Linked DNA regions of Homo sapiens: regions 2 and 3 are each linked to region 1. Evidence: fine-mapped expression QTL. A gene starts in region 1. Each other region holds a variant in brackets. All regions are shown on one strand. Distances are from middle to middle. Region 1 holds the start of ALPL (alkaline phosphatase, biomineralization associated). Region 2 overlaps ALPL (alkaline phosphatase, biomineralization associated). Region 3 overlaps ALPL (alkaline phosphatase, biomineralization associated).

Evidence for each region.
Region 2: its variant is fine-mapped to the expression of ALPL in whole blood (TOPMed, PIP 0.96).
Region 3: its variant is fine-mapped to the expression of ALPL in whole blood (INTERVAL, PIP above 0.99).

The regions. Positions count from the first base shown.
Region 1 is chr1:21,504,720-21,512,896 of GRCh38, reverse strand. ALPL (alkaline phosphatase, biomineralization associated) reads right to left here and starts at 3,474. Exons shown (of 12, transcript NM_000478.6): 1 at 3,380-3,474. RefSeq lists enhancers at 2,391-2,960, 2,961-3,531 and a silencer at 3,567-3,666.
Region 2 is chr1:21,545,214-21,553,390 of GRCh38, reverse strand. The region is part of intron 1 of ALPL (alkaline phosphatase, biomineralization associated); the gene reads right to left. Among named protein-coding and RNA genes, the nearest start is that of LINC02596, 37 kb to the left of the region's middle. The variant A/T (reference allele first, on the strand shown) is at 4,888.
Region 3 is chr1:21,558,159-21,566,335 of GRCh38, reverse strand. It overlaps ALPL (alkaline phosphatase, biomineralization associated), which reads right to left. Exons shown (of 12, transcript NM_000478.6): 3 at 5,591-5,710; 4 at 5,124-5,239; 5 at 3,052-3,226; 6 at 2,120-2,295. Among named protein-coding and RNA genes, the nearest start is that of LINC02596, 24 kb to the left of the region's middle. The variant T/C (reference allele first, on the strand shown) is at 3,686.

The sequences.
Region 1 (8,177 bases):
CTCCCTAACCCCCTACTCTCATCTCAAATTTTACCCCTTAATTTGAGAAGTCAAATTCAATGCAAACAATTGATTTCATGCCACAGTGAGGCTGAGAATTTAAGCATGGAAAACTTTAAGCATAGAGTTTTTCTGGGAGCAATTAACGAAGTGTTGGCGGGGGGGTTGGGAGCTGGTACAAGGAGGCAGAAAAATACGGAGACTATGTTCTTCAGACACTGAGCATCATATCTTGATGTTGGGGGCCTCCTATGAGCTTGACACTCAGAGAGGTAAAGTGACTTGCCTCAGGTCACACAGCTGGCGATTGGAATCCAAGACACCAGCCCCCAAACCAGTGTTTTCCCTGCTGTGTAGGCTTTTGTGACCTAAACGTGGACTTCCCTCAGGCCCTCAGGATCACCTGGTAGGGATAAAGTTAACTGCTTTTGAAATTGCTCCACAGGAAATATGAATGTCTTAATAACATCAATGCTGGTTCAGCCCAAAGTTGGAAAACCATTTATGATCTTGCGACCCTGCAAAGTATATAATTTTAACCCATATTGCAGATGAGAAAACTGAGGCTTCGAAAGGGAAGGTGACTTGTCCAGGGTCGCATGGCAGTGCTGGGAATGAACCTTCAGTCTACTGCCCCTAACTGCCCTCTGAAAGTGAGGACATCTCCAGAAGAAAAAAAACAAATCTAACATACCACAAAGCCCAGCTCCAGCCTGCCAAGGACGACGACATGGTGCTGGGAAGCCAAGTCAGCATTCCTGTGGCCACATGGAGATTTCTGAGTGCTGGTTCTCAGCCCAGCTTGCTCACTCTCCCAGCAATGTTCTCTCAGAGCTCTGGGTTTTGTATTAAAAAGCCAAGTCAGACTGATTTCAAGGTGAGAACTCGGGCTCTGCTACTGGATCCTACTCCCTGGATTAAAAGGCCTCATATGCCCAGAGATGGGTACAGCATGGAGATTGCTAGATTTGGAATTCTAGATACGCAGGCTCCAGCCCCAGCTCCTCAGGTAGCATCTGTGTGCCTCTGGGCAACTCACTTCCCCTTTCCAAGATCATATCCAGCTTGCAGGGAATGTTGGGTATGTAAGTCATGGGACAGAACAGGGCTGAGTTTGGTCCTGAGCTAGGACACGGTGAGGCACAAGAACAGGCAGAGGGCAGGAAGCGCTGCAGAGATGATGGCTCCAGGGCTGATCTCATCATGGAGCTCTGCGCTCCCAGCCCAGGCTGTGTTTAGGATGGCGACAGAAGGTGGCATCTGAGTGTGAGCAAAGAGGGCACCATGCCACCCCACATGTGTAGCCCAACAGGATGGGAAGGGCCTGGGCAGAAGTGGGTAACAGGTTCAGAGGCAGGGTAGGCACATAACCCAACTTCCAGTCTCCGCATTGCATTTTCTGCTGAGAAGAGAGCTGAGGATAGCCAGGATTTTCTTAAGCACAGGTACCAGCTTAAACCCTTCGCAAGCATTCATCATATCTAGACCTCACCACTGGTAGGCACTATTGATCTCCACAGCTTATGGGAGGAGGCCGAGGCACAGAGAGGGAACAGAACTGATCCCAGGTCCCACAGCAAGGCTGCCTTTGCTAAAGTGAGGGCCAAAGGTTGGCCAATCCATTTTACAGGTGATTGCGTCTTAATCTCCTTCCTTATGAATAGCTTGATTTCAAGTCTACACTGTGAATTCTGACAGTTTCAAAGCCTGAAAGAATTTTGTTATGCAAACATCCAATCCAGAAGAGGGCTTTTGGCTGATTTACTGTGGCATTCCCGGCACCTAGAACAGAGCTTGGCACACGGCGGATGCTTAAGTATTTGCTGAATGAAGATAGCATCTTGTTCTGGCCTCAGTTCAGTTTTATTCCTCACAATAGTCCCGAAAGGGGAATACACCCCTTTTTACAAATGGGCACATGGACCGGGATCATCACTCAGCCTAGTCTTCACCAGTTGGGATGTTGAGAAGCTGTGTCCAGGGGCCTCTTCTGAGGGAATTCACAGGTATTCAGTTAAAGAAAGAAAAAGGTGACACAGGAACAAGATGCATGGGGCCAGGGAGTGGGATGGCTGGGGCAGGACAGCGTGGGGACACCCACAGGTGGGGAGGACTAAACAGTTGGAAAGAGCAAGACTGGAGAGTGGAGGAAGAGCGGGCTGAGCCCAGGAGGAGCCGGAAGACAAAACCAAGGCTCAGCCCCCTATCTCTTAGGCAACACAGTGGGAGCAGGACGCTAGGGCTGCAGAGTTTGGAGTCTGGATTCAAACCCTGGTCCCACCACTTACTTAAATTGTCTAAGCCTCAGTTTCCCCATTTGTAAAATGAAATGATGTACATGAGATGTCAGAGCAGGTCCCTCTACGCACGGTAGGCCTTCAAAAAACAGTTGCAGTATCTACACTGAGGCTGGGACCCAACCCCTGCCTCCCTGGGCAGCTGGGCCCACCTGAGCGGTCTGACTTTTTCCCAGGGCCCAAAGCCCTTCCTGGCCCAAGAATCGCCCCCTCTTTTGATCTCAAGGAATTTCACCCTCCACCCAGAGGCCTTTGTAAAGGCCCCGCCTTCGACCCCATTATGTGTTGAAAAAGAGTCATAAGGCACAATGGGGAGTGGGGGAGGCTTTCCTCGGCCTCCTGCCTTTCTGCTGAGACCTGCGTTTAACCCTTTCTTACCAAGACTGGGCAGGGAAGCAGCCCTGGGAGGCCCACCTCGCAAAGCCTAAAGGGGGCGGCAGGCTCCTTCGGCTTCGCGGGCTCCAGAGCTTTGCCCCACAGCTGCGGTGCCCACAGTGGGTGCCCACACTTTGACACCCACGCGGGTGTCCTCTGTCTCCTCCCGCCACGCCCCCCATTCCAAGCGCCTCCTGCCCTCTCCTCCTCCCAAACCAAACTGCTTTAGACCCCACCGGGTCAGGTGGGACGCCTGGGAGGGCGCCAGGCCACGAGGCCTTGGGGTTGGCAGCCCAGGTCTCTAGAGCTACGGCTAAGGAGGCACCAGGAGGGGCTCAGTCACGGGGCACCAAGGGCAGGTGCCCAGACAGAGCGCAGGGTCCCAGGCAGCGGCTCGGGAGGTAGGAGACCCTGGGACTGCAGGGCGGTCCCGAGCGCGGTCCCCTGAGTTCGCCGGCTCCGCGGGCGCCACGTCCAATCTCCTGTCCCGCCCAGAGCGCGCGCCGGGAGCTTGGGATGCGCGGGAGGACAGGGGCAGGACCAATTGCAGGGCGTCCCGAATGGGCTGCTGTGGGCGGCGTGGCGCTGGAGACCCCGGCCCTGCCATTAAAGTTCAACCACGGGGCCAGCGGAGGATGCAGAAGGGGATGGACCACGTCCGCTGGGGCCCTGGGGAACCAGGGCGCGGGGCAGCGTCGAATCCTTACCTGCGCAGAGCACTGGCGAGGGTCCGTCCAGGCACAAGCGCGTGGGAGCACGGAGCCAGGATAGCGGGCGCGGAGTGGCGGGAGCGCAACGCGGCCCGGGCCACCACCCCCGCCGCCTTATAAAGGCGGCCGCGGGGCCCGAGTGAGGCCCGGGCAGCCCGCCCCCTCCCCCGCCCCCGGCCCCAACCCCTCCCCAGCCCGGCCCCGGCCCCGCCCCCGGCCCGAGCCCCGCGCCCCGCGGGCCGGTCGTGCCACGAGGCCAGGGCGCCCCCTGCCGGGAGCGGAGCTAGGAACGGGCTGGGGTGACGCGGCCCTGGCGTCCCTCGCCCGCCCCGCACTCTCGGTCTCTCTGCCTCCGGGCTGCCCCAGCCCAGCCCTTCCTCTCTCAGCGAGCCTGGGCTCTGACCTGCTCCTTGCGCGCGTCTCCTGTTTTGTCTTTACCGTCGGCATCTTCCTTCTGCGTCTCTTGGTGGGAGTCTTTGTCTCCACCCGTCTCTTTGTCTGCCTTCCTCTCTGGCGTCTGTCTCTGTGTCTGTCAACATATCTGGCTTTCTCTGGGTCTCTGTCTTTATCCGTCTCTGCCCACGTGTCCCTGTCTCTCTGTCTCTGTCCACGTGCACCTCTGACTCTGCACCCCCACCCCCGCTTCCCTGCCCGTGGGCTGCCTCCCTGGCTACCGCAAGAAGAAGCAGAAGGGGACCTCGGAGGGGTGGCATCTGGAGGGAAACCACCCCCTAGACAGGGGCCCTTCCCTCTTTCTCTCTTTAGAGACGTAAAGGGCCCGCAGGTGTCCGGCTATGTCCCAGCCAGAGCCCCAGGACATGCTCCCTGGATGCCAGAGGAGGGGCAGGCACTTCCCAGGCAGTTGAGTCAGACAGCTCAAGTTCAAAACTCTGCTCTGGTGACCTTGGCCAAGTCACTTGACCTATGTGGACCAGCCTGCCCCTCTTTAACAGGCAGACACCATCTCCCCTGGCCTCTCGCTGGTGCGAGAGTCATATGAGACAGTGCTTGAAAACTACAGAGGAAACGCTAAAATCCCGGATAGACGGGAGCCAGGGACAGAGGCTGGGTGCTACAGGCCCTGCTCCCGCTCCTGGGGAACCAGCTCTGATGGAATAACCACTCCCTTTCCTCTGAGCACTGAATTCTCTGGGCAACTTCGCAGTGAGAAGTCCGCAGGCTCTGTTTGAATGCCTCCAGCGACAGAGCTCACTGACTCCTAACAGGAGGGTCTTCTCAGTGGCCCTTGGGAAAATGTCTGCCCAGAGAACCAATTTTAGCCAGGTCAGGCAACCTCTCTTCCACTCACTCCATGCCAGTCTCAGGGCCAGGCACTGTGCATGCATTAACTTCCAAAAGCTCCATTTTCCAGAGGAGAAAACTGAGGCCCAGAGAGATCATGTGACTTCTCAGTAAGGTTGGAGCCAGAACTGGGGCCTGGTGCCAGAAACCAAGAATGTCTTTGTATTTATTTTTGTTTCTTTTGTATTTTTGGTTGATACTGTTTATTTAGAGGCGTGACATAGGTTCCCTTTTCAGATAAGTTTATGTTTTTTAAAAGTGAGTCAAAATATTGAGTAAATACTATTTATTTATGTATTTCATGGGTTGGGTGATATGGCAAAAATCATGGAGGTAGCAAATGAATGGAGTTTAGGAAATACCATCCTCTGTAAGAAATTGCAGGTGAAAGCACCCAGCACTGGGCCTAAAACATGGGAGGGGCTCAATACTTGCTCACAAATGCCAAGGAAGGGTTTAAGGATTCCAGGAGACTTAAGATGGTATCATCATCAGTGAGCCAGGGGCAAGTCCCCAGGCATGGAAAATCTGCCTGTTGCTTGGACAGAGGCTGGGAGGCAGAGCCAGAGGGAATTGGAGGCACCCATTGCACCTATCATGGGGCCAGCACCCCTGACTTTTTTTTTTTTTTTTTTTTGAGACAGGGTCCCACTCTATTGCCTAGGCTGGAATGCAGTAGCATGATGTCAGCTCACTGCAGCCTCGACCTCCCGGGCTCAAGTGATCTTCCCACCTCAGCCTCCCCAGCAGCCAGGACTACAGGTGTGCACCACCACGCCCGGCTAATTTTTGTATTTTTTTGTAAAGAACAGGGTTTTGCTATGTTGCTCAGGCTGGTCTCGAACTCCTAAGCTCAAGTGATCCCCCTGCCTCCTTATCCCAAAGTGATGGGATTACAGGCATGAGCCACCACACCCGACCCTATCCCTGACTTCTGATCTCCCCAAAGCTATGAGGGACGGGCACTTCTGGTTGAGCCACATGGCCAGCATTAGGTCCCCCATGTCTGTGATTTGCCCTCAAGTCCCTCCACCTCGGGATTTCAGGGATTGGTTATCAGCAGCAGGGACTATACTGCTTGGCCAGCCCTGCCACCTTCCACCCTCAAACCCTCTTACTCTGCTCCTGGGCTGGGTCCCTCAAGGAGAATTCAACTGAGATGGGGCATCCAGCAGCCCTTGCCTCCCCTGCTCCCCGGGTGCCCCTCCTCCTGGCTCTGTCAACACAGCGGAAAGAAGTCCTGGACCTGGAACCAGGAGACTCCAGTCCATCCTCCAGCTCTGCCCTGGCTTGCTGGGGAGCTGAGCAAGTCACTTTTCCCATCGAGGTTCAGATTCCTTCTGGCCTTTTGAACTGGACAATCTCTAAGTGCAACCCAGATGCCATGATTTCAGGACCACTCAGCTGGTGGCAACAGCTCATTACATTCGATTTCTCTCCATCATTGTCCCTGGGGCACCACTTCCTTGTTGAAAACTAAACAAATTGGATTTAACCTCCAAGCTCCCTGTGCCTAAGAGCTAATGATGTCTTTTGAGTCTCACAGCAGTATCATAAGGTGGGCAGGGCAGGTGTTTACAATCCCCACTATACATGGGGTACACCAAGGCCAGAGATAGTAGTTACTTACAGGTCAGGGTCAGAGCTGGGTTTGGTTACCAGGTTTACTATTCCCAGTCCAGGGCTTTTTCCATTCATCCATTTATTCCGTATCTGTTAAGTGCATGCCATGAGCCTGTGCCGCAAGCTAGACCTTCAAGTTCACTAGGCAGGCCAGGCATGGTGGCTCACGCCTGTAATCCCAGCACTTTGGGAGGCCAAGATGGGAGGGTCTCTTGTGTCCAGGAGTTAGAGTCTGCAGTGAGCTATGATCACACCCCTGCACTCCAGCCTGGCCAACAGAGTGAGACTTTGTCTTGGGAAAAAAAAATTTAAGAGGTTCACCAGGCATTAGAATTAGAAGCTAAGTTAGGCCGGGCGTGGTGGCTCATGCCTGTAATCCCAGCACTTTGGGAGGCTAGGCAGGTGGATCACCTGAGGTCCGGAGTTTGAGACCAGCCTGGCCAACACGGTGAAACCCCGTCTCTACTGAAAACATAAAAATTAGCCGAGCAAGGTGACGCACACCTGTAGTCCCAGCTACTTGGGAGGCTGAGGCACGAGAAACGCTTGAACCCTGGAGGCAGAGGTTGCAGTGAGCTGAGATCACGCCACTACACTCCAGCCTGGGTGACAGAGTGAGACTCTGTTTCAAAAAAAGAAAGGAAAAGAAGAGAAAAAATTAGAAGCTAAGTTAGAGATGAGGCCAGAAGCCCAAGAGCATAGGGTAGGGTGGGGCAGGGGGACAGCCAGGACCTCAGTAGACAGAGATAAAGGAGAAAGAAAGGAGAGAGACAGAGAAAACAAAACTCTGAGGTCTGTTCGTGGAGAGGCGGTGAGGAGTCAGCTGTGGTCTAGGGCTGGAGAAAATAATCCCTGAAATCTATTTAAAGGCAAGGGGGCCTGAAACCTTGGTCTGTTTTGATGCTTGGACTAAAGGGGTCATTTTATCTCAAGCCCAGGCCTGAGCACAAGTTCAGCCATTTGATTCCCAGTGCCACCTACAGCCCCACCTTTAACTCAGTTAAAAAATGAACCAAAAGGCATGAGGTGGAAGAGACTACGACAGCCGAAGCAGCATCATTAAACCGACAATGCTGCCGTGGCCAGGGCAATTGGACGCTAATAAAAGTAGGGACTTTTATTCTCTCTTCACGGATGAGGAAACTGAAGCATATATGAGCTATTGTTGCTGGGGACTCCCTCTGTGTCTGCAGCCTGATGGAAAGATCTTTATAGGTGAGATTTAACTTGCTCCTCCCTGCAACACCAAAGCACCATCACTGTTGTCATCGTCACCTTTCCAGTGAGCAGGCTGTTATCCCAGGCAGACTTGGCAACCTTATTCATTCAACAAATGTTTATTGGATGCCTGCTCTGCAGCAGGCACCCTTCTAGGAACTGGACATACCAGTGAACAAAACAGAATGTTTATCCTCACGGAACTGACACTTTAGTTGGGAAGGTAGATAATAAACAACAAACATTAATAAGTAAGTTAGTAAGATAACAGGGGCCGGGCACAGTGGCACACGCCTGTAATCCCAGTACTTTGGGAGGCCAAGGTGCGCAGATCACTTGAGGTCAGGAGTTCGAGACCAGCCTGGCCAACGTAGAGAAACCCCGTATCTACTAAAAATACCAAAAAAAAAAAAAAAAATTAGCTGGGGTTGGTGGTGCACACCTATATTCCCAGCTACTCAGGAGGCTGAGGCGGGAGAATCACTTGAACCTGGGAGGCAGAGGTTGCAGTGAGCCGAGATGGTGCCACTACACTCCAGCCTGGGCAACAGAGGGAGACTCTGTCTCTAAATAAATAAATAAATAAATAAATAGGCCGGGCGAGGGTGTTCACGCCTGTAATCCCAGCACTTTTGGAGACCGAGGTGGGCGG
Region 2 (8,177 bases), 40 kb before region 1:
TGTCGTTTATGGTAAGAGATATAAAAATGGTAGGAGTCACATATGTGAAAAAACTGGCTGGTAAGTGTGGCCATTTCTGGGTGGTGACATCACAGACAACTGATTTTTCTTTTCCATTGTCTTTTCTGCATTTCCAAAATTTTCTTTTGTGCTGAGATACAGTATTATCTTTACAATTTTTAAAAAATATATATATATTTAAAGTCGGATGTAATTGAAGAGTTTAGGTGGAAAAAAAAACTGGAAGGAAATACACCAAAACATTAACTGTGGTTTTCTCTGGGTGGTAGGACTATGAATGATTATTTCCTCTTTATTTTTTTGAATTTTCCAAGTAGCCTAAAACAAGCATGTATTAATGGCATAAGAATGTTTTTACACTGTGGTCTTCCTGTTAAATCACAAAGAACAACCCCACTGGCAGCTGAGAAATGTACTAACCCTGTTGCACATGAGTTACAAGACAAAGAATTTTAAGTGGCAAGAGTTTCACTGGGAAATGTTATTGCTTCAGCCAAAACCAAGATATGACACCATTTGTTGTGGGAAACAGCAGTAATACACACTCTACCGTTAGAAAAGTGTTGTGACAGATAAGACACCACTCTAGTCCAATTATTATATGTTAAGTAAAAACAAAATAAAACATTTTTTAAAAGTTGTTTAAAGAAAAAAAGCCAGGCATGGTGGTAACATGCCTGTAATCCCAGCTACTTGGGAAGCTGAGGCTGGAGGAAGTTCGCTTCAGGCCTGGAGTTGGAGACCAGCCTGGGCAACACAGCGAGACCCTGTCTCTAAGAAAAATTTTTGTATTTTAATTTTTTAAAAGTTTCTTTTCTTTTTAAAAATTCTTCTCTTTGCAGCTCCAGCTCAAAGGAAAAAGATTTTTTCTTTTTCTTTTTTTTTTTTTTGAGACGGAGTTTTGTTCTTGTTGCCCAGGCTGGAGTGCAATGGCACAACCTCGGCTCACTGCAACCTCCGCCCCCCGGGTTCAAGCAATTTTCCTGCCTCAGCCTCCCGAGTGGCTGGGATTACAGGCTTGCGCCACCATGCCCGGCCAATTTTGTATTTTTAGTAGAGATGGGGTCCATGTTGGTCAGGCTGGTCTCGAACTCCCGACCTCAGGTGATCTGCCCACCTTGGCCTCCCAAAGTGCTGGGATTACAGGTGTGAGCTGCCGCGCCCATCCAAGATTTTTTTTTTTAATTTAAAAATAGAGAAAAAGAAAAGGAGAAAAGGAAGGAGGGAGGGGAGGGGAGGGGAGGGAGGAAAGGGAAGGGGAGGAAAGGGAAGGGAAGGGAAGGGAGAAAAAGAAACCACTACCACCAGAAGAAGGATCTTGATTCAACCTTAAAAACACGCAAATGGCCGGGCGCGGTGGCTCACGCCTGTAATCCCAGCACTTTGGGAGGCCGAGGCGGGCGGATCACGAAGTCAGGAGATCGAGACCATCCTGGCTAACACAGTGAAACCCCGTCTCTACTAAAAATACAAAAAATTAGCCGGGAGAGGTAGCGGGCGCCTGTAGTCCCAGCTACTCAGGAGGCTGAGGCAGGAGAATGGCGTGAACCCGGGAGGCGGAGCTTGCAGTGAGCCGAGATCGCGCCACTGCACTCCAGCCTGGGCGACAGCGAGACTCTGTCTCAAAAAAAAAAAAAAAAAAAAAAAAAACCACGCAAGCTGCGCTCCAGTGCCAGAAGTGACGGCTCTGGGGTAGGGGCTGGGGGTAGCGGCGCAGAGTGGAAATTAAAAGGCAATATCCCACATCTAACATCTAACAACACTTAACTGTGAGTGGTAGAATTTGGAATTTCAGATGATTCCTACATTTTTTTTTTTGTTCTACTTTACGGTTTCCAAATATTTCTATAGCAAATCCTAAAATCAGAAAAATGTTATTAACTGAATACGAAATACTAATTCATTAAACTATTATTTAAAATCACTTAAAAATGAAGTCACCTCTTTCAGGAAGGCTCCAGGATGGTCACTCACTCATTCCAATATAACACCACTGAGCTTCATGCCACCTCAAACATCGCATGTACCTCTCTTTTTGAAGGTAATATAGTTCTTTCCTGGGCCATCTCAGCTGCCACACCGGGAGTTTCTAAGTGTGAGGACTTTGTCTTGTTTGTCTCTGCCCTCCTAGTGCTTGGCATAGTAAATATTTACATCAGTTGAAAGCCAGTGCCCTAAGGAAGGTTGTGGGGGGAAGGGAAGAGCCATCCAAAATTATCTTCTCTGTGTGTGCAGGAAAGTCCAAGAGTTCGTGAAGATGTTTAACTACCGGAAGGTCCGCTCGCCGTTGGTGGAGTGCAGACAGGCACAGCGCATGGGAAAACCGGCAGGATCTACCGAAGCTGATCATCCTACCTGTACCCTGGGACCCGTTTCTCTCCAGCAGAATGTGCACATCAGCCCTGTTTATAATGGCTTCAAAACTGCCTCCATCTACGGCAGGCTGGATAATACATTGTGTGTGTTCACAACACAGAAACCACCACAGACAGCAAGGAGAATGGATGATCCACAGCTCCTCACAACAACATGAATGAATCGCACAAGGTAAGCTTGAGCAAAGGAAGCTAAACCCAAGAGCACTTACAGTGTGATTCCGATGACAGAAAGTATAAAAACTAACCCAGGGCGTTGGGAGACAGAACGGAGGCTCCACGTGGAGGGTACGGAAACGGGAACGGGCTGCTGGGGTGCTGGTGCGGTTCGGTTTATGATTGATCTGGGTGGGTGGGTGCTGGTTACACGGTGGGTTCAGCTGTCAATGTATGATACACACATTTTTCTCTACGTGCATTTTATTTCAATAAAATAAATACTACTCTTTGGGAGCTTACATGAACAATCTATAAAGGATACTGACAAAATGAAAGCAAGTCTATGTGCTGCACTCCATAGTTCATAAAGAATTTCACCATGATGTTTCACTAATCAGCTATGCAGTGGACAGAAAAGGACCTATCATCTCCTTTTACAGATGAGAAAACCAAGGCTCTGGACGGAGACTTGCCCAAGGTTACCAACAGGAAGTTGCAGAGCAGAAACCTGACCACAGGGCTCCTGATTCCAGAATTAGCAATCAGGTTACCATCAGTCACCCCCTCCAGAGGGAGGGATTTCTGTTGCCCCCAAGTGTAAAATGAGTGTTCTGACGTTTGACACATGGATAGATTTATGTAACCACCACCGCCACCGTCAGGACCCAGAACAGCTCTGCCACCCCAAAAATCTCTCTTGCGTTCTTTATAGTTACACAATCCCCCCATCCCTAAACCTGGCGATCCCTGATCTGTCCTCCACCACTGTGTTTTTGATAGGTATGGTATTAAATCCACAGATCAATGTGGGAGGGTTTACGTCTATACCACATGGAGTTGCCCAGTCATGAAGACACCACGTCTCTCCACTCATTCAGTCAGAGTTCTTCGGTTTTATCAGCACTCTGTAGTCTTCAGCCTGTAGATCTTGGATATGTTTTCTTAGATTTATACCTACGGGTTCCATCGTGTAATGGTTAGCATTCTGGACTCTGAATCCAGATTTATACCTAAGAATTTTGCTTTTTGGGGAACTATTGTAAATGGCAATGTTTCTGAGCCATATACTACCGAGCCAAGTGCGATGGCTCACACCTGTAATCCCAGCACTTTGAGAGGCTGAGGCGGGTGGATCCCTTAAGGTCAGGTGTTTGAGACCAGCCTGGCCAACATGGTGAAACTCTCTCTACAAAAATTAGCTGGGCATGGTGGTGTGCACCTGTAGTCCCAGCTACCTGAGAGGCTGAGGCAGGAGAATCACTTGAACCCAGGAAGCAGAGTTTGCAGTGAGCTGAGATCGCATCACTGCAGTCCAGCCTGGGCAACAGAGTGAGACTCCATCTCAGAAAAAAAAAAAAAAGAAAAAGAAAAAAGCATTCAGCCTTTCGGCGTTTGGGGTGGTCTTTTGAGGCGTGAGGTGGAGACAATCAGGAACTTGTTTTTGGATATGTTGAGTTGGAGATGTCTTTTAGAAGTGGAGACACTAAGGAGGCAGCTGAATATTTGGCTCTGGCATTTGAAAAAGAAGTCTGGGTTAGAGTATAAATTTGGGAATCATAGGCACAGGGGTGGCAGTTAACACCCTGATCAAACTTGACGTGCTCACCTAGGGAGAGGGAATGGGGTCACAGAAAACGATGTGACAGAAGCCCTCAGCAAACCAGGTATTGAAAAGAATTTCCTTAATCTGATAAAGGCTTTATGCCAAGAACCTGCAGAAACCATCATACTCGCTGGAGAAAGCTTTGGCAAACTCCTTTTAACACTGGCTTATGATGGTGAGGAGCCGGGGCAGTCTCGTCCACAACTAGGGAAATGAATTAGTAAGGAGTGGTGGAGGCAATGTCTGCGTGGCAGTGGTATTAAAACTAGATGTCCAAACAGCAGCGTGGTGGGGTCTAAAGGCAGAGGACTGAGTGATGAATGTAAAGAATCAAACGCAGTGTATGTAAGTGCAAACCACCCCCACGGACAGAATGCTGTGTAACGTACAAGGACACTTACAACTCCAAGGCCATATTAAGTACATTAGCATAGGGACTTCGGTGAGCTGTGGGAATGGCAGTGGGGAGGCAGGGAGCAGGGACAAAGGAAAAAATGAATAAACAAAACAAGAACTGAGAGCTTATTTGGGTATGTCATGTGCTAAGTGAGATAACGTATCCCACTCTCTCTGCACTGAGGGTCCAAAACAGGTGAGCGAATAAAGAAAAATAAAAGTGTAGTGACCCGGGAGCACTGAAAGGCTCATCCAGCCCCACATGATTATTCTTCCGGTTATTGGTCTGTCTCTCCTCCCTGCTAGCCTGAAGCTCTGTGAACGTAAAGACCA[A/T]CATCTTACCCATCTCTGCATCCCGAGCCCTTGCACATGGTAGCAGTTCCATAAGTGCCACCAGTTCAGGCTGGGATGCTCTGAATTTTGGCCCCAGGGATAGGCATTGAGATAGGCTTGGCCTGGAGGCAGGTGCCTTCTCCCATAGCCTCCGCTCAGGACAAGGAGAGGGTGGGGACCTGGGAAAGCCTTCAGAACCCAGAGCCTCCCTGCTGGCCCCACCCCTAGGACCCCTCCCCCTCGCAGAGGCTCCTGGCTGCTCTGTGGCAGCCCTGGAAGCGGAGGGGCCCAGTTTGGGGCTGTGGGGGCCCCGGCTGCCCACCACCCTCTGCCAATGTCTGCCAGCTTAAAATGGGGCCTCCGGGTGTGTGTCAGCCCCATCGCCACCCCCTCCCTCCCTTCTCTGCCAGGCTCCCGGCTCCTCCGTAGCCTGATTACGCATGGCCAGTGCAGAAGCCCCGGCTAGGCTGTGGCGCCAGAGGAGCAGCTACTTGGCAGTTCAGTGCAGGGGGCTGAGGAGCCAGGCAGGCCTTAGCTCTGAGGACTGATTCAGCAACCCAGGCAGAGGGCCCGGGAGCATCCTGGAGTGGGGCAAAAAGCCAGCCTTGGGCTGGGTCTCAGAAGATCTGGGGCAAATGATAGAAGAATGGGACAAACGTGTCACTACCATTTCTTAGGCCCTCATGTTCCACTCAGCCCCATGCTGTTTACATCCCTGATCTCACAATATGGATGAAGAGCCCCCGTTTTGTAGCTTAGGAAACCCAACAGAGGGTTTGGCTAGTCTTCGACTATGCGCCATTTAAGCCCAGGCTGACGCCAGGGCTCAACCTCTCCGGGCCTTGGTTTCCCCACCATGAAGAGTAAGAGAAATGAGTGCCCCGCTTGCTCCATCTCACGAGAACAAATGGAAGCTGAACGAGCTTAGGGCAGGGAATTTGGCGGGATGCAGGGGGAGTCAGGCCAGCTGAGTTCCCCTACCTGAGCGGCCTGGCCAGGCGGCAAGTGAAGAAACAAAGGAGGCCCAGGATCAGCCCCAGGAGGAGGAGGCTGAGGGCCACCGTGAGGACCACATCCAGGATGGGGGACAGGAGGGCCATCTTGGGGCAAAGAGGGCCCCTGGGAGCAGCCACCACGCCCTGCACACACTCGGTCACACTAGCTCCAAAGCCCTGGGTCAGTGGCCGTGACCCGCTTTATCCCTGGGTTAATCTTTGTGGATTAGTCAGAAGGGATGAAACGGGGTGCTGGGGTGGGAGGGGGAGCAGGCTACGAAGCTCCTCTCTCCCATTTGAGCCCCGGGGGAGGGCCCGATGCTTGTTCATTCAACTTTGTTCATTCATTCCTCACTCCCAAACACCTACAGAGCACCTGCTGAGTATCTCTGTGCTAGGTTCTATGGAAACAGTCGGGAACGGGACAGAGTTTCTGTCAGCTTGGAGGTAACTGACCAGCCAGTGTGGACAAAGCACCTACTGTATGCTAGACATTGTGCCAGGTGCCCTGTGGGGCAAAAACATGGAAGGGAACCCCTTGGCTAGTAACACAGTAGGTTTTCCCCTAACAGCAGCAGCTGTTCCAGCCCATCTATGGGCCTAGAAATCTGAGTTGGTGCTTACCCCAGCCAGAGGGATGCACCCATGCTCAGAAGAAGACGAACTGCTCTTATTGAGCACCAACTGTGTACCAGGCCCCATCTGGGCTAGGGACTAGTATCCCCATTTGCAGAGAAACAGAGGCTCAGAGGTGCAATGGTGGAGTTGGGATTTAAGCCCAAATCTGGGGGTCTCCACGGCCCGTACCTCAGAACTGAGATAGCAGCAGCCTACGGAGGCTTTAGTGAAGCCCTGCCAGGCGCTGGCCTAAAGCCAGCAGTCACCCAGGAGGCAGCACACACAGGCTGGAGGTGGACGAGCTGTTGCCAGCACGGAGGGGCCTTTTCTGCTTCCAAAATTGTCTCCCCAACCCAGATCCAATCTCTCCTAAAACATCCTGTGAAGTCAGGAGAGTGGTTATGATTCCCATCTCACAGATTCAGAAACGGCCCAGAGAGGTCAAGCCACTTGGATATGCACAGCTGTGCACCATTAGACCAGGCCTTTTCTGATCACACTTCCTGTCTCCTGGTACACCTCAGATCCCATGGTCCAAAATACCCAAGGTCAGGAGGAGACACTTTTACCCTCTTGGTGCCAAGGAAAGTCCCCTCTTCTTGACCCCAGAAAGGCCACTGACCTCACCATAACAGGAAAACTAATCTCGTTACTCCATTACGCCCTTTTCTTTCTCAACATTCCCGTAACTCAAATTGCGTCAGATCCTCACAACATCCTAGTGATACTGGCAGGGTGGGGATTATTAGCCCTATTGATAAAAGAAAAACTTCAGCTGAATTAAATTTAAAAGAATTGCCTGCAATCCCAGCACTTTGGGAGGCTGAGGTGGGTGGATCACGAGGTCAGGAAATCGAGACCATCCTGGCCAACATGATGAAACCCCGTGTCTACTAAAAATACAAAAATTAGCTGGGCATGGTGGTGTGTGCCTATAATCCCAGCTACTCGGGAGGCTGAGGCAGGATAATCGCTTGAACTAGAGAGTTAGAGGTTGCAGTGAGCTGAGATCGTGCCACTGTACTCCAGCCTGGCAACAGAGCGAGACTCTGTCTCAAAATAAAATAAAATAAAATATAAAAAAATAAATTTAAAAGAGTTTAATTGAGCAATGAACGATCTGCAAATTAGGCAGCCTCCTGAGCCGGAGTAGGAACCAGCGCAGCCACTTAGTAGAAGAAGATTTATGAACAGAAAAGGAAAGTGAGGTGCAGTCAGATTGGTTACAGCTTAGCACTTGTCATTTGAACACGGTTTGAACAGTTGGCGACATTTGATTGGCTAAAACTTGGTAATTGGTGGCTGGGCATGGTGGCTCACTCCTGTAATCCCAGCACTTTGGGAGGCTGAGGAGGGTGGATCACCTGAGGTCAGGAGTTCGAGACCGGCCTGGCCAACATGATGAAACCCTGTCTCTACTAAAAATACAAAAATTAGCTGGGCATGGTGGCAGGCGCCTGTAATCCTAGCTACTTGGGTGGCTGAGGCAGGAGAATCGCTTGAACCCGGGTGGCGGAGGTTGTAGTGAGCTGAGATTACAATGCTGTACTCCAGCCTGGGCGACAGAGTGAGACTCTGTCTTAAAAAAAAACAAAAACAAAAACAAAAACAAAAAAACCCCCAAAACTTGGTGATTGGCACAAGTGTAGGCTATAGTCTGTTTACACCTCTATTTCT
Region 3 (8,177 bases), 53 kb before region 1:
CTCCAGCCTTAGAGACAGAATGAGACTCCGTCTCAAAATAATAATAATAAATAAAATGCAACTAACATCCATCCACAGACCCATCACAGGAGGAAAGGCAGTCACCCAGGGAAGTCCCCAGCACCCAGGGGGTGGCTGCCACTGGAAGGCATTTCTATTGCCAGAAGGAGTGGGGAAACAAGTGGTTCAGAGAGGCAGAGTCCTTGCTCTCAGCTGCAGCCAGGAGCTCAGGGGGCAGGGTGGGCTGGGAGAAGAAGGAGAAGGGGACCCCAGGTCACGGGTCCCTTGCCCCGCCCCCCACAACTGTTCCCACAGAACCTGACCTCTTGGCATCTTCAGAGTGGAAAACGAAGCCCCCAATCTTCCTGCAGGGAGCCTCATCGTTTCCAGCCCGGCAGCGACTTCACACGGGCTCATTAAACTCCCAAATAACAGACTTGCTGTTTGGCTTTGGGGTTTAGGTTTGTGTCTTTCTTTCTTTCTTTCTCTTCTTTCTTTTTTTTTTTTAAGCAACAGTATTTATTTTCAGGGTGGACACCAGGATTTTTGTTTCATGTACAGTCTGGGGACTGGGAGGCTTTTGGGGGGGTGGTGACGGAGAGGCAGGTGGGGCTGGGAGAGAAAGGAAGAGGAGGAAAGAAAGGGATCCTCACACAGGTCCTCCGTCCTCACTCACTCCCTGGCTTGTGCCCCTTGACGTGGCCCCTGCGGCCCCCCCTCCTCATCTCCCACCCCCTCACCTGAAACATCTTCCCTCCCCTCGAATTTCCTTCAAGTTCCTGTCCCCTGCTCAGGCTGTCCCTGACAAACCCCTCTGAGGAGCAGTCCCCATGTAATTATACCCTGTGCCTGTACAACAAATGTTCTCACATCCATGACCTCATCACGGCCTCCCACGGCCCTGGGAGCAAGCAAGTGTGGCTCTCTGTTTCTGCTGCACAGGTGGGGAAACTGAGGCATAGGGAGGGGAAGGAACTCGCCCCAGGCCACATGTCGGGTGAAGGCAAGCCAGGATGAGTGGCTTGGCCTCAGATGTCTGTTCAGTGAAAGGGGCCAACAGCACTGTGTGTCCTGAAAGCGGGTACTTAATCCACCATGCTGGGAAAAGGGCAGACGTGGGTCTCTACTGTGGAGGGGCCAAGTAGCCCCCAGAAATTTGTGGGGGGCAGTGCATGGAGGGCTGAAGGCAGGTGAGTTTGTCTGGTGGTGGAGAGAAAGAGGTGAGGTGTAGCTGGGCAGGGGGGCTTTCTCTGCCCCTCACCGAATCCCCATTCCAGGCTCAAGGGGCAGAAGTCCCCAGATCGCCTCAGCAGTCCCCCACAGTAGGCAATAAAAGCCTGAAAAGGAACGAGCCGGGCATTCTCACTTAAGAACAGAGAGTAAGCGTCACATGGATGACTTCTGTCTCCATGAGTCAGCTCAGTTTGTTGAAGTGTGTTTCAGGGCAAGGACATGTGGCTCCTGCGTAAGTGCCACCACCTTCTGGGCACTCGCTAGGCCTCGGGTCCTGTGCTGAGCTCCACAGGGATTATCTTAATCAGTTCTTGGCATAAGCTTATGAGGCAGGTACAGTTCACAAAGGAGTTGTGAAAGGGAAGCCTCAGAGAGGTTAAGTAACTGACCCAAGGTCACACAGCTAGCAACACGCAGGGCAAGGTCTGGAACTCGGAAGTTTAAACACGAGAGCTGGCACTAGCCAACCACTGTACACACCAGCTCTTTGCCGGGCATGCTGGTGGTTGAGTGTACAGATATGTACCCATCTGTGACCATGTGAATACGCAGGGCAGGCAGACGACACTTGGCCATCACCACCTCCCGTGTAGTGGGGGGCAGAGGAGGGCACAGCACCAGGTTTCAATTTATGGAATCATCCCTGGATGCCTGGTTCTTGGGGTGTGGTGGCGGTCACATGAGGGTTCACCCCGCAGCCCCACCGCAGAGAAATCCCACAGTGCCTGCCTGCCCAACCGCAAATCCCCTAATGGGCTGGGAGCCTCCCAGGTGTGTGGGGAGCCAGGCCAGGCTGCTTTCTCCGGGCCAGCCTGGGCCTGAGGCCTCCTGCCCACCAGAGGCCCCGCCTCACCCCGTCCCTGCCCGGCTGCCCCCGAGCACTCACGTCAATGTCCCTGATGTTATGCATGAGCTGGTAGGCGATGTCCTTACAGCCCTGGCTCAAGGCCTCAGGGGGCATCTCGTTGTCTGAGTACCAGTCCCGGTCAGCCGAGTGGGCGTAGGCGGCGCTGGGGGTGGCATGGTTCACTCTCGTGGTGGTCACAATGCCCACAGATTTCCCTGGGGTGCAGGAGGGGCGGGTTTGGCTTTATCCACAGATCGGGGTGTCCCAGAGGCCTCCTCCCTCCCTTCCCCCTCCCCGCTAAAGACAGGCCCCCGCTTCAGTTCTGAGGATTGCCCGGGTCTCAGTCTCCCCATCCACAGCAGCAGGTGTCTGGCAGTGGCTTCCAAGTAGCCGAGCAGCCAGAACACTGCCTCTGGAACCCTCTCCCCTCACCCCGAAGGCCCTTGAGATGTGAGCACCTGGGCTGGAGTCCTCCCCTTCATCAAGGCGCCCACAGGACCCCTGAGGGATCTCAAGTGGACTGTGGCTCTGTCACCTGTATGTTGGCCTTGTCACCTGTGTTTTGGCCTTGGCCCCTGACTAAAGCTTCTGGGGGCACAGGCTGGGCCTCCCAATTCTGAGGAGGGAAGGGGCGTGGCCATGGACTGCACCCCACAGGCTAGCCCTGGGCTGACTTCTCCCTCCTCACACCAACCCTATGAGGGGGCTACGTTCCCACCCGTTTTATAGTCAAATGAAGAATCGACTCAGAGAAATGAACTGGGACCAGAACCCACCACTGAGTGAACCCCAAACCCTCAGCTTCCCCTGTCACGGAAGGAATCCCATGGATATTACAGACTCCCAGCATATCAGAGCTGGGAGCCCCACAGAGAAGCCTTTTCTAGCCCCTTCCCATGACACAGTCAGAAAGACTGAGGCCTGGACAGGCCACGAAGCTGGCCCTGCTCCCCACTGCTCCCCCGACTCACCAGCGTCCTTGGCCCAGCGCAGGATGGAGGTGACCTCGTTCCCCTGGGTGGTGTTGCACCGGGAACGCTCAGTGGCTGCGCTTACCCCCACGGTGCCCTCATTGGCCTTCACCCCACACAGGTAGGCGGTGGCGGTGCCGGCACTGTCAGGGACCTGGGCATTGGTGTTGTACGTCTGCAGGTGGGAGAGGAGGGTCAGGAGATGGCCAGGCCTTCGCCCCAGTGGCACCCACCCCGCCTACACTCACACCATGGGGACTGGGGCGTGAGGGACCAGAGAGGACCCCATAGCCTTGACCAGGCCCACTGCCCACTGAAGCCCCCCAGAGCCACAGGACTACCTAGCTGCCTGCTTCCTGCCATCATTCCCTGCACCCTGGCAGCACTGGGGCAGGACCTTAGCTCTCCAAAGTACAGAGAAGTGTCCGGCGGAAGATTGGGGCTCAGGTGGGGTCAGCGGAGGCCTCTCTCCGGGCCTGGGGCTGCAGGAGCCAGCAAGGGGTTGGGGAGCAGGGGAGTCCTGGAGAAGGGAGAGGGAGGGGCCTTCTTGAAGGAGTGGGGGGTCTGGGGATAGGGTAGTGAAAGTGAGGGGGAAGGGGACTGGGGAAGGGAAGGGTGGGGCCAAGACCAGCGC[T/C]GACTTCTCTGCCACCTGCCCTGCGGCCACCATCACAGGGTTGCCCTACATCCGGATGTTTAGCAGAGACCCCAAAACTATTTGCCTGTCTCCCTTCCCCACCAGCCTGAGAGCACCTTGAAGGCACAGAAGGCACCATAGTCCCCACTACTCCCCCAGAAGTGAGCCTGGGGCCTGACCCAGGGTCTGGAGGTTATTACATAACACCACTATCACCACCACCAATAGCAATAGCTACCCGGCAGTGCACACTGCCTTGAACAACCTAGGTCAGTACAGGCACACCTCATTTTAGTGTACTCCACAGACACTGTGTTTGTTACAAATTGAAGATCTGTGGCAACCCTGTGTCAAGCAAGTCTATCAGCATCATTTTTTCCAAAAACATGAGCTCACTTCATTAGCGTTTTTTAGCAATAGCATATTTTTAAATTAAGGTATATACATTTTTTTAGACATAATGCTATCCCACACTTAAAAGACTACTGTAGGGTGCAAACATAACTTTTATATGCACTGGGAAACCAAAAAATGTGTGACTTGCTTCATTGCAATATTTGCTTTATTACAGTGGCCTGGAACCAAACCCGAAGTATAGCTGAGGTATGCCTATAGTCTAATTAACTTCACGAACTGCCTCGGGAAAGAATGAATGAACTGGAACTTCATGCAAAAGTGTATACAGGCCAGGCACGGTGGCTCATGCCTGTAATCCTAGCACTTTGGGAGGCCAAGGTGGGCAGATCACCTGGGGTCAGGAGTTCGAGACCAGCCTGGCCAACAGGGTGAAACCTTGTCTCTACTAAAAATAAAAAAATTAGCTGGGCATGGTGGCGCATGCCTGTAATCCCAGCTACTTGGGAGGCTGAGGCAGAAGAATCACTTGAACTCGGGAGGCAGAGGTTGCAGTGAGCTGATGTCATGCTACTGTACTCCAGCCTGGAAGACAGAGTAAGACTGTCTCAAAAAAAAAAAAAAAAAAAAGGCATATATAGGCCGTGCATGGTGGCTCACGCCTGTAATCCCAAGACTGGGAGGCCAAGGCTGTAGGATCGCTTAAGCCCAAGAATTAGAGACCTTGGGGGGGTCTCTAATTATCCATATGTGGTGGTACACACCTGTAGTCCCAGCTACTCGGGAGGCTAACGTGGGAGGATGGCTTGAGCCCAGGAGTTGGAGGCTGCAGTGAGCTATGACTGCACCACTGCACTGCAGCCTGGGCAACAGAGCAAGACCCTCTCTCTAAACACACACCCGCAAGCAGGTACAGTGATGCTATGGTGTCAGAAGTCAGGGCAGTGGCTGCTCCAGGTGGGGAGTGGGCTTGGGCATGGAGGGGGCTCAGGGGGTCAGGGGACCTCTGGCTGCTGTCATGTTCAGATGCTCGACCTGGATACTGGATATACAGACCTGAACTGGGCTTGGGGATGGGGCTCACCTTGGAGAGGGCCACGAAGGGGAACTTGTCCATCTCCAGCCTGGTCTCCTCCCCAGGGTTGTGGTGGAGCTGACCCTTGAGGATGCGGGCAGCCGTCACTGTGGAGACACCCATCCCTGCAGTGGGGAGTGGGGGCCTCAGTCTCTCGTGCTCCTGCCTCTCCAATCAGCCTGCTTGGGTACCCAGAAGCTCTCTAGTTCGGTACCAAGGCAGGCTCGGGCAGTTGGCACTGGGCATGGCTCTGTAAATGTCAGTGAGCAGCCCCTCTCTCCCTTCACCCCCAGATCCTCAGGGGGCTGTCTGGCAGAGCAGGCCTCTTGAATCCACAGCCTGGCCCCTCATCCTTTTAAACACCCTTCCTCCAGAGCCCTAGCCCCTTCAACACAGCCCCCTTCAACTCAGCCTGGCTCCCGGGGCTCCTAGCTAGGTGTCCTGTTCCACCCCTCCCACAGGCCCCTGGGCCTCACCATCTCCCAGGAACATGATGACATTCTTAGCCACGTTGGTGTTGAGCTTCTGAAGCTCCAGGGCATATTTCAGTGTCTCTTGCGCTTGGTCTCGCCAGTACTTGGGGTCTTTCTCTTTCTCTAAACACAGAGAGAGGCAGTTACTTGGCGGGGTAAGGATAGCCTCCTATCTCCAGACGTACAGATCCCCCCACTTCTGATTGCTCAGGCTGGAATGCCTGAACTTGGAGGTGGGTGCAATAGTTGCCCACCCAGACAACACATCTGTGGTTTATAAATATGTGCCATCCAGATCCTCCAGAAAAGCCTGTGGACCCTGGGGTCTTCTCCTCACATCTCAGAATGAAGAAACCAAGGCTCAGAGACAACGAGCAACTTGCCTAAGGCCACACAGCACAGGCAGACACTGGCAGGGCTGGGTTTCGCTCCAAAGCCCATGCTCATTCCTTCTACCCAGTAGGGAGATGAGCTGCTAAGGCAGCAAATGAATTGTGCTAGCACAATTAAGAGAGTAATGTTTAACCTATTCAACAAACTCCTTCCAGCAGAAGGGGTCCCCTGATATAGCCAGCCATCAATTATCAACTCTGCTTAGCTTATTCATTAAAGTAGGCTCAGCAGGAACCTGACTTGGTTTAATAGCAGTGCTGGAAAGCGAAGCTTGCCTTTTGCTTAATATGTCAAATTTAAAGGAGCCAGGTGATCTCACTCTTGTTAGGATTAGTTATCAAGGACGACATTCTGCATCTCTCATCGCCCCCTCCATCCCTCTTGGCTGATAGTGACTTCTGGCTGGGGCTTTATGGTTTTGAGATAAAATGAGAACTAAGAACACTTCTTTCTCTCTCCCTCTTTCTCATGTGTGTGTGTGTCCAGCAACCAATCCACAGCTTTAGTGCCAGACAGACCTCAATTAAAACCCCAGCTGCTGGGCATGGTGGCTCATGCCTGTAATCCCAGCACTTTGGAAGGCCGAGGCAGGCAGATCACCTGAGCTCAGGAGTTCGCGACCAACTTGGGCAACACGGTGATATCCCGTCTCTACTGAAATATGAAAAATTAGCTGGGCGTGGCAGTGTGCACCTGTAGTCCCAGCTACTCAGGAGGCTGAGGCAGGAGAACTGCTTGAACCCGGGAGGCGGAGGTTGCAGTGAGCTGAGATCATACCACTGCACTCCAGCCTGGGTGACAGAGCTAGACTCCGTCTCAAAAACAAACAAACAAAAAACCCCCAGCTGCTCCAAGTACTAGCTCTGTCACCTCCCTCAGCCTCAGTCTCTTCCCCTGTTAAATGACATTGCTGGCATCATCCCCTCAGGGTCGCTCTAAGGACTGGGCCGGATAAGGCAAGTGACACACCTGACCCACAGGAGAGGCTCAAAAGTTGCCTCCCATCCCCATTATCCCGTCTCCAGGGCTGGACCAGGACCCTGGCTATGGGAGCTGGAGTCCCTCCCAGAGTCTGCGGGGCTCCCCTCTGTCCCAGGGCCCTATCAGATCTGCTCAGAAGCCTAGAGAGGAGGCTCCCTAGCGGTTTCCTCTTTCAAGGCCTCCCACTGCACAGAACGGGAGGAGAGATCAGGAATGGGAGGGTCTTGTCCAAGGCCGTGTAGCATGTTCGTGGGCTGGGGACACAATTCTCATCTTTTGGCCCAGCTCCGACGCGTGCCTGGCTCTCGGAGTGGCCGTGGGTAAAGAACAGCCCTCCTTCCTCACACACGCACTGGCTCTGGGCGAGATGCCAGGGACCCCCCACACAGCTTCTCTTATTCCTCTCAACTGCCTTGGCAGGTGGGCACCAGTGTCTCCTCCACATTAGGAAATGGAGAGCCTGAGATTAGGGCCCCAAGTGGGAGAACCGGAAACTCACGCGTCGCCGTGGCTCTGCCCCAGCCTAGCATAGGCGCAGAGCACAGGCGAGGAGCCGCCAGGGTGCTGCAGTGCACCTCTAGCTTTGGACCCAAGCACACCCCACGCCCCTCCCCAAGAGGCCTCCCCTTACGTCACCACCACCCCAATCCCTCAGCCCACTACCCTCATCCCGACAGCCCCAGGTCCACCCTCTCTCTTCTGGAAGTGTCTGCTGAGGGCATCAATTTCAGATGTCCCCACGCAGTCCCCACTGGGAATTGGGAGCACCTTGGCCCTTCTGCCCGACAGGGTGCCTTTGGACAAGAGTTTCTGCCCCAGGAAATGGGACACCCGTAGCTATCCACAGGCAGTTCTAGGATGACATGAGATAAAGTCTGGGCAAGGCCGGGGCCAGAGGTTTTCCTCAGAGGTCCCCCAGGCCCAGGCTGGTTCCAGCCTCCCTCCTGCCTTCCTCAAAACACACCACGGTGCTGTTGGTCATAGAGCCTCTTTGGCCAGTTGGGTGCCACTGGGTGGTGAAGACCTTCTACCCACCCTGACCCGCTACAACCTGTACCTGACTTAACAGCTTGGAGGTCCCAGGGCTGGGCTGACATCAGCCCGCCCCACACCTGTTGCCCTTGTTCAGCCCAGCCTCTGCCACCGGGTCCCCTGCTCCGTTGAGTGCTTGTTCTCTCTAGACTGGAGTCCCACAAGGGCAGAGTCCTTGTCTTTT